2 separate regions of the Homo sapiens genome follow, and region 2 is linked to region 1. Evidence: fine-mapped expression QTL. A gene starts in region 1. The other region holds a variant in brackets. All regions are shown on one strand. Distances are from middle to middle. Region 1 holds the start of KLF4 (KLF transcription factor 4). Region 2 has its middle 340 kb from the start of KLF4.

Region 1 (4,387 bases):
AATCAGAGTTAAAGTAACTGGCCTGATCCTATATAGGGGGGTGGGGTTGAACTCCTCGAGGTCATAGGAAGGAGGACCTCGGTTTCCCTGCCAAAACACTCTCATCCCCCAGCTGCAACCCTGGCAGCCCTTGGCCAGAGCCAAGCTAGAGGATGGAAGTCACACTCAAGGGCGTCCGACTCTGGATCTTAGAGGGATTCCTGGCGTTGGCAGGGAGGGCCGAGTCAATTCATTCGGGGCGAGATGCATTCCAAGAATGCTTCTGTGGTCGGCGAGGAGTGGAAAAATCAGGTATCACAAATATTCTGAGGAAACCTAATAGGTACCAGAATCGCAGGGTTCAAACAGGTGACAACGACAAAGGACATTGGCAACTAGAACTCAAAAAGGGGTGAGCGCACTCTCTGCCCGGTGCCCGAGCTTCCACCACTTTCCCCAGTGTCCCCTCTCTTCTCTTTCCTAGGTTGACACCAGCCTAAGCGCCAGCGTTCGCCGGTGAGGGGGCTCCGTGGAGAGGGGGGCGGAGTCCCGCGCCGAACGCCGGAATCCAAAGTAAACACCTCGCCAAACCTACGTTTAGAAAGTGATACCGAACACCACATTCACGTTTTAAAAAAAAATACTGTTTGCTAAGAAGATGAGAGCAAAACATTTCCCAGCTGGAAAATTACTGATCACAAACCAAGGGGAGAGTGGGGGTGGGGGAGGCAGCGTTATAAGATTGAAGTAAAGATCGCCGTTTCCTATTCCCTTCCCGGTGGGCAAGGACGCCTGCGGCGGGCTCGGTGTGCACTTTTTGAGAGCTAGGATCCCACCGCATCGCTCCACTTCCTGGCACATGGTCACTTCCCAGGGAAGTCCCTTTAGGGGGGCCTGACCTACCCGGAGCCTGAGCCGAAGGAACGAGTTGTCCTTTGACCTTTACTGGCCATTTCACCTCTTTATGACTCAATTTCTCATCCATAAAGTGGAAAGGAGAGTGCGTGGCTTGAAAAGTCATCAGTGAGTGTTTAATTCTTCTTTAATGGGTGTCTTCTATTATTATTATTATTCTACAGTGCAATTTAGTCATCAAATATTACAGGCAGTGGCTCACGCCTGTAATCCCAGCACTTCGGGAGGCCGAGGCAGGCTGATCACTTGAGGTCAGGTGTTCGAGACCTGCCTGGCCAACATGGTGAAACCCCGTCTCCACGAAAAATACAAAAATTAGCCGGCGTCGTGGCGCACGCCTGTAATCCCCGCTACTCGGGAGGCTGACGCAGGAGAATCGCTTGGACGCAGGAGGCGGAGGTTGCACTGAGCTGAGATCGTGCCACTGCATTCCAGCTTGGGCGACACAGCGAGACTCTGTCTCACAAAAAAAAAAAAAAGAAAGAAAAAAAAAGGAAAGGGCTTCGAGATGGCTGGTTGAAAACTGTCTCCGCGCCTCACAGTCCCTCTTCTCTCCCTTATGCCTCTGAGTAAATCTTGAGCCCTTTCACTCCCTTTCTCGCTATTTAAAGTATCAAAACCATAACTCCCCATTCGTGCCTCTTTCCGCCTGTTCCCGGCGGAACACTCCTCTGGCCTTCTCTTGAGGCTCCCAGTTCACGCTGCACAGTGCTGGGCACTGCCTCCTCTCCACACCCCTAGCGCCCCCCACCCCTCAGCAGAAGGGCCCGCGAGGAACCGTGCGAGGTCAGGCCGAGCGCCGGCACCGCCACCGGCACTGGCGCTGAGCGACGAGAGCGGACTCCTGCGAGCGCAGAGAGGGAGGGGGAGATGGAGGGCTGGATGAGTCACGCGGATAATCGCGCTCTTCTCCAGCGCGCAGACAGCGCGGCAAGCGCGTATGCTAGCAGGGGTGCGGACGCGTGACCGTGCCGCCCGCTGACCCCACCAGTCTTCGCGGGCTTCGAACCCAGGGAGCCGACAATGGCGGTGAGTACGGCCCTGGTCGCGCAGCGACCGAACCTGCGCCCGGTTCCTCGCGCCCCGCGCTGGGGCGGACGCCGCCGCCGCCGCCGACACCACTGCCGCCGGCGTCAGCTCGGCTCCAGCCCGCCAGCTGCCTGGCTGGCGTCACGGCCCGGCCCAGCCCCGCCCGCGCCCCTCCTTCCCCTCCCCCGCCCCCACGTGCGCCGAGTTTGTTGATTTAGCTGCCATAGCAACGATGGAAGGGAGCCTCGGGGGGGGCGGAGAGAAGAAAGGGAGGGGCGGGGCATGGGAGAAGGCGGAGGAAAAGGCTGTAGCGAAGGAAGTTATAAGTAAGGAACGCGCGCCGGCGGCCGGCAGTTTCCCGACCAGAGAGAACGAACGTGTCTGCGGGCGCGCGGGGAGCAGAGGCGGTGGCGGGCGGCGGCGGCACCGGGAGCCGCCGAGTGACCCTCCCCCGCCCCTCTGGCCCCCCACCCTCCCACCCGCCCGTGGCCCGCGCCCATGGCCGCGCGCGCTCCACACAACTCACCGGAGTCCGCGCCTTGCGCCGCCGACCAGTTCGCAGCTCCGCGCCACGGCAGCCAGTCTCACCTGGCGGCACCGCCCGCCCACCGCCCCGGCCACAGCCCCTGCGCCCACGGCAGCACTCGAGGCGACCGCGACAGTGGTGGGGGACGCTGCTGAGTGGAAGAGAGCGCAGCCCGGCCACCGGACCTACTTACTCGCCTTGCTGATTGTCTATTTTTGCGTTTACAACTTTTCTAAGAACTTTTGTATACAAAGGAACTTTTTAAAAAAGACGCTTCCAAGTTATATTTAATCCAAAGAAGAAGGATCTCGGCCAATTTGGGGTTTTGGGTTTTGGCTTCGTTTCTTCTCTTCGTTGACTTTGGGGTTCAGGTGCCCCAGCTGCTTCGGGCTGCCGAGGACCTTCTGGGCCCCCACATTAATGAGGTAGGTGAGGCGCGCGGCGCTGGGAGCAGGGAGGGGTGAGGACCGGTGGGACGCGCCGGAACGACGGCCGAAAGCCGCCCCTGACTCTCCTGTCTCCGCTCCCTGCCTTGCTCGCAGGCAGCCACCTGGCGAGTCTGACATGGCTGTCAGCGACGCGCTGCTCCCATCTTTCTCCACGTTCGCGTCTGGCCCGGCGGGAAGGGAGAAGACACTGCGTCAAGCAGGTGCCCCGAATAACGTGAGTATCGCTCCGGGCCGCCGGGAACGCCCGGTGGGTTTTCGTGGGTGTGGTGGGGGCGGGCGGAGCCTTGGGGTCACCAAGAGCCACTGAACGAGGGTAAGGAGCGGCCACCGCGCGGACTCCGCAACCTTCCCGGGATAGCTTCCGTGTCCTTGGCTCAGCTGTGTATGCCCGTGGTGCGAGCACTGCGGAGCCGCCTGGGGCGCAAGCCGGGTCTTCACCAGTCCCCGGGCGCGCTGTCGGTAGGGCGGGCGCTCTCGGGCCACCGGGCGGGAGGTGGCCGCGTCCCCAGACACTGGCTGGGCCAGAGTGAGTTTAGCGCGTAGGCGGCCCCGTGGCGAGAGCGCACCGAGAGAGCCTCGGTGTGCCAATTCCGGGGACGTCCACGGGACCTGGAGGGGGAGGGACCAGCCGCGGCGCTCGCTCACACGCAATTGGGCAGACAGGACATAACACCCGCAATACAGACGCATCACCTCTTCTTCGACCCGGGAGTGGGCCGAGATTGCAGCGCTGGCGCCCTGGGTTCCCGGGTGCTTCCTGCCTGACCAGTCCCCATGTCTGGGCGGTGCAGTCGCGCGTGGCCCGCCAGCACGTCAGTATGTCGGGTGGCAACAGGGGACCACCACTGACAGGTCTCTCCCGCCCTGTCCCCGCAGCGCTGGCGGGAGGAGCTCTCCCACATGAAGCGACTTCCCCCAGTGCTTCCCGGCCGCCCCTATGACCTGGCGGCGGCGACCGTGGCCACAGACCTGGAGAGCGGCGGAGCCGGTGCGGCTTGCGGCGGTAGCAACCTGGCGCCCCTACCTCGGAGAGAGACCGAGGAGTTCAACGATCTCCTGGACCTGGACTTTATTCTCTCCAATTCGCTGACCCATCCTCCGGAGTCAGTGGCCGCCACCGTGTCCTCGTCAGCGTCAGCCTCCTCTTCGTCGTCGCCGTCGAGCAGCGGCCCTGCCAGCGCGCCCTCCACCTGCAGCTTCACCTATCCGATCCGGGCCGGGAACGACCCGGGCGTGGCGCCGGGCGGCACGGGCGGAGGCCTCCTCTATGGCAGGGAGTCCGCTCCCCCTCCGACGGCTCCCTTCAACCTGGCGGACATCAACGACGTGAGCCCCTCGGGCGGCTTCGTGGCCGAGCTCCTGCGGCCAGAATTGGACCCGGTGTACATTCCGCCGCAGCAGCCGCAGCCGCCAGGTGGCGGGCTGATGGGCAAGTTCGTGCTGAAGGCGTCGCTGAGCGCCCCTGGCAGCGAGTACGGCAGCCCGTCGG
Region 2 (4,387 bases), 340 kb before region 1:
GAGAAAGAGTCCCACTTTGTCACCCAGGCTGGAGTGTAGTGGCATGATCTTGGCTCACTACAGCCTTCGCCTCCTGGGTTCAAGCGATTCTCCTGCCTCAGCTTCCCAAGTAGCTGGGATTACAGGCACGGGCCACCACGCCCGGCTAATTTTTGTATTTTTAGTAGAGATGAGGTTTCGCCATGATGGCCAGGCTGGTCTCGAACTCCTGTCCTCAAGTGATCTGCCTGCCTCAGACTCCCAAAGCACTGGGATTATAGGCATGAGCCACCGTGCCCAGCCTCTGTTTTTATGTTTGTTTGGTTTTTAAGCCTGTTTTGGGCAAACAGTACCTCAGACTCCTGAGAGCCGAAATAAAGGGAGTCTCTCTTGAGGGTCAATCAACCACTGAAACAAAAAAATTGGGAGGAAATATTCTTCCCCTCCTCACCACCCCTCTTCTAGCAGAGAAGGTGACAGCTGGAGAGTAGGGAAACCCAAGTTCAAAAGTCACCATTTAACTATGAGATCTTGAAAAAGTCGCTTTCCACTTTCTCTATGATCCTCGGTTTCCTTATCTGTGTAATGCCTGCCTAAGTGTCCTCACAGGCTTATTAGGAGGATCAAGTGAAAATGCAGGTGAATGCAGTTTCAGAGTATAGAGTGCTACTCAAATATAACATACTCTCTTTCTCATTATTATACTGCTATTATTATATGCTGCCTGCCAGGAGGGGAGAGTTAATTACCTGACCATCTCTTTAACTACGCCAGCACCCAGAAAAGTTAAAACTACCTTTTTTTAATCCTGTTTTGCCCAAGAAAATTTAAATGCACTTCTGTGCCCACAGCACTCCCGCAAGTATGGTGAATGTTCCTAAAACCCACCGGACTTTCTGTAACAAGTGTGTCAAGCACCAGTCCCACAAAGTGACACAGAATGAGATGGGCAAAGATTCTCTGTATGCCCAGGGAAAGAAGTGCTATAATAGGAAGCCAAGTGGCTATTGCGGGCAGACTGAGCCCATTTTCAGGAAAAAGGCTAAAACTACAAAGAAGATTGTGCTGAGGCTTGAGTGCATTGAGCCCAACTGCAGATCTACAAAAGTGCTGGCCATTAAGAGATACAAGGATTTTGAACTGGGAGGAGGTACAAAGACAAAGGGCCAAGCGATCCGGTTCTAAGTGTCATCTTTTGTTTTATGATGAAGACAATAAAACTTTGAGTGTATGTTCACTTCAAAAAAACAATAACAGAAAATTTAAATGTCTAGTGTCTATTGACCGGAAAGAATGACATGTTTTATTGCATTTTTCTCAGTAGCACTTATCCATGAAAAAGAACCATGTCCCTTGGCTTGAGGGTTTTAAGCAAGACTTACTTTTTTTCCTCTTAAAGAACTTCTAAGGATTTCTGCAAACACCAAATCACCCTTGAATTCTTTTATTTCCTATTGATTATCCACACAAAAAAAAATAATTCTGGCTAGTATAATAATAGGCTATACCATTCTGGAGAACATGGAGGATTCATTCAGATGAACATTACTAGAGGATCCAGATAGAGCATGGAACATGAAGCCAAAGGAACCTCATAGGCTCCCCCATCTCATCCTTTGATAGGGGCTCATGCCTCAAGGGGCATTCTGATGGAAGAGGGCTTTTCGTATCAAGGGAGACCACTTCTCATGGAGAAGGAAAACCAGACTATGTGCTGGGGGTGGAAAGTTGTCGGCCGTGTCTGTAACATGGATCTGTGGAACACATACACCCTCCACCATTACCACTGCTAAAGAGACCGTATGGCCCATTCTCAGGGGAACTAAACAAGGTTCTCACATTCCACGAGTTTGTAGAGTCCCTCGGAGTTATTACAAGGCAAGCTGTTGACCATATATAGCACTGCTCAAAAGGGCCTTATTTGTGGGAATTTTCTGTTTAATTGTATTTTCGATCAACAAGAATGTGACTTCATTACTTCAGCATCAATTCAATAAGATTTTTCTGCCTCTTCGTGTCAGATACACTGCCATTAGCCCTGCCCTATACAGCCCTGCCTGCTGCACAGTGCTTACGGCCCAGTGTCTTAGAATGACTGAGTTGAAGAGCAAGATGTGACTATTGAGAGATTTCACAATTTGGAATGCTGTACCTCTAACATGTTTTTTTTTTTTCCACTTGTTTGTTTTTGTAACTCATGGTTACTCTTTTTCCAATCCAGAATGAAATAGAAATTGAGAAATAATCAGGTTAACTCAACCCATGCAGACAGAGAAGCTGGTCAATGAGAACTCCCAACTGCACATGGAGCTGAGACGTTCTGTCCTGCTGCCCAC[G/A]GTGGTTAGATTAACCTAAACCCATCAGAAAGCTAACCATCCTTAGCCAGCTCAACAAAGACTTCAGCTTGCAACATAGGAAAATGCAGAGCAAAAAATACTATGATAAAAAGAGTTTGGGAGAGATTCAAGGAAAAAAAATGTAAAGAGAGCATTGAGGAAACAGGCTTGAAATCCACATGAAGGACACACAAGGGAATCCTTTTCAAGGCTGAATTGGTGACTAGACCAATTTTACCCTCCCTTAGAAAAACTGGCATTGATTAGTGAGTGTGACTGTATGGGCTATTTGGAGCTTTAGTTTTCATTCCAAGAAACTGGCAGCGTCTCTCACCACGGATCTCCCCAAATTGATGGATGGTAGCAATTATGTAGAGCTATTTGTGTAATGTGTTGTAATAGCAGCACACGTTGGCTGTCACTTTGACCCAGACAGCCCCTTGCCCAACTATAAAGAAACCCCATCACAGAGCCGCCTTCAACAAGAAGCCAAGGAAAAAAAAAAAAATCTTCATCCCACCCCGCCTCTCAAGGAAATAGAAATTTTTAAAGCCTTCGAGAAAACAATGCCCCGTTGGTAGGAAGAGTTAAAATTGGACTTTGTGGTTTATCAGTCCATCTGAGCATGTATATTTCTGCTCATTCCTAGAGCAAACAAAGGTTATTAAAGACTAAAGAAACTTCTTCCACTCAATGGATGTTTAATGACTCTTCACATTAAGGCGACATCATTGGTCCACATCATTGGTCTTGTCTGCAGGGGCATGCAAAGGTGAAACAGAGCCTTGGTGCTCAGGAAGCAAAGTGCCTGGTGCCCTTAAGATGAGAACAGCAATAATAATCACACCTTTCATGTACCGTGTACCAGGCATTGTACCAAGTGCTCCAACACATGATCCCTTATAACACTCGGATAGGACCATCTCCCTTCCTGGGCCCTTGACTCTTCTCACTGATCTTTTTGTTTGTTTTTATTTTTGAGAGAGGGCCTCACTCTGTCTTCCAGGCTGGAGGGCAGTGGCACCATCTCTGCTTACTGCAAACTCACAGCCTCATGGGCTCAGGTGATTCTTCTACTTCAGCCTCTTGAGTAGGTGGGACCACAGGCAGGCACCATCATGCCTGGATAATTTTTCATGTTTTTGGTAGAGACAGGGTTTTGCCATGTTGCCCAGGCTGGTCTCGAACTCCTGGACTCAAGAGATCCACCCACCTCAACCTCCAAAAGTACTGGAATTACAGGCGTGAACCACACACCCAGCCTCTCACTGATCTCTTTACTCTTCCCTGAACACTGGATGTGCTCCTGCCTCGGGATCTGGCACTGTTTTCTCCAAGGACCATTCTTTCCCCAGATATCCAGGTCTCACTCCCTCACTGCATGCAGGTTTCTGCTCCAATATCACCGTATCTGGCAAGCCTTCTCTTGATCACTGCAGGTAAACTAGCAATGTTGTCACCTCACCCCACTTATTTGTCTTCGGTGACCTTGTCACTCCTAACAAATTAGATATCCATTTGAAATTGATCTGGAATCAGGTAGTGGTAATGGTTGCACAACTTTGTGATATACTAAAAACCTCTGAATTACACACTTTCAGAGGGTAGAATTTATAGTATGTGAAGTCTATCTCAACATAGCTGTTTAATAAAATAGAATAAAAGTTGCTGCCATCTTTCTCCCCTGCTGGGAGACAAATAAGAGTTGTTTTTGTTATGTTTTATTTATTTATTTTTTTAAACAAGTTCTCACCCTGTCATCCAGGCTGGAGTACAGTAGTGATATCTTAGCTCATTGCAACCTCCACCTCCCAGGCTCAAGCAATCCTTTCACTTCAGCCTCCCAAGTAACTGAAACTACAGGTGCATACTACCACTCCCAGCAATTTTTTGTAGAAATGGGTTTTGCCGTGTTGCCCAGGCTGGTCTCAAACTCCTGGACTCAAGTGTTACCTGCCCACCTTGGCCTCCAAATGTGCTGGAATTACAGGCGTGAGCCACCATGCCCAGCCTGTCCTAGCTATTTTCTTGAGGTCTAGAGAATCATGAACACAAAGCAGGCACTCAATAAA

The links. PIP is the estimated chance that this variant, and not a neighbour inherited with it, causes the effect. A credible set is the group of variants that fine-mapping cannot tell apart.
Region 2: its variant is the best candidate, but not a certain one, in a credible set for the expression of KLF4 in whole blood (TOPMed, PIP 0.60).

Annotation. Positions count from the first base shown.
Region 1 is chr9:107,487,655-107,492,041 of GRCh38, reverse strand. It overlaps KLF4 (KLF transcription factor 4), which reads left to right and starts at 2,273. Exons shown (of 5, transcript NM_004235.6): 1 at 2,273-2,874; 2 at 2,992-3,112; 3 at 3,775-4,387. The coding sequence starts at 2,870. RefSeq lists silencers at 1,992-2,201, 2,561-2,760, 3,412-3,461.
Region 2 is chr9:107,831,286-107,835,672 of GRCh38, reverse strand. It overlaps the pseudogene RPL36AP6. Among named protein-coding and RNA genes, the nearest start is that of KLF4, 340 kb to the right of the region's middle. The variant G/A (reference allele first, on the strand shown) is at 2,316.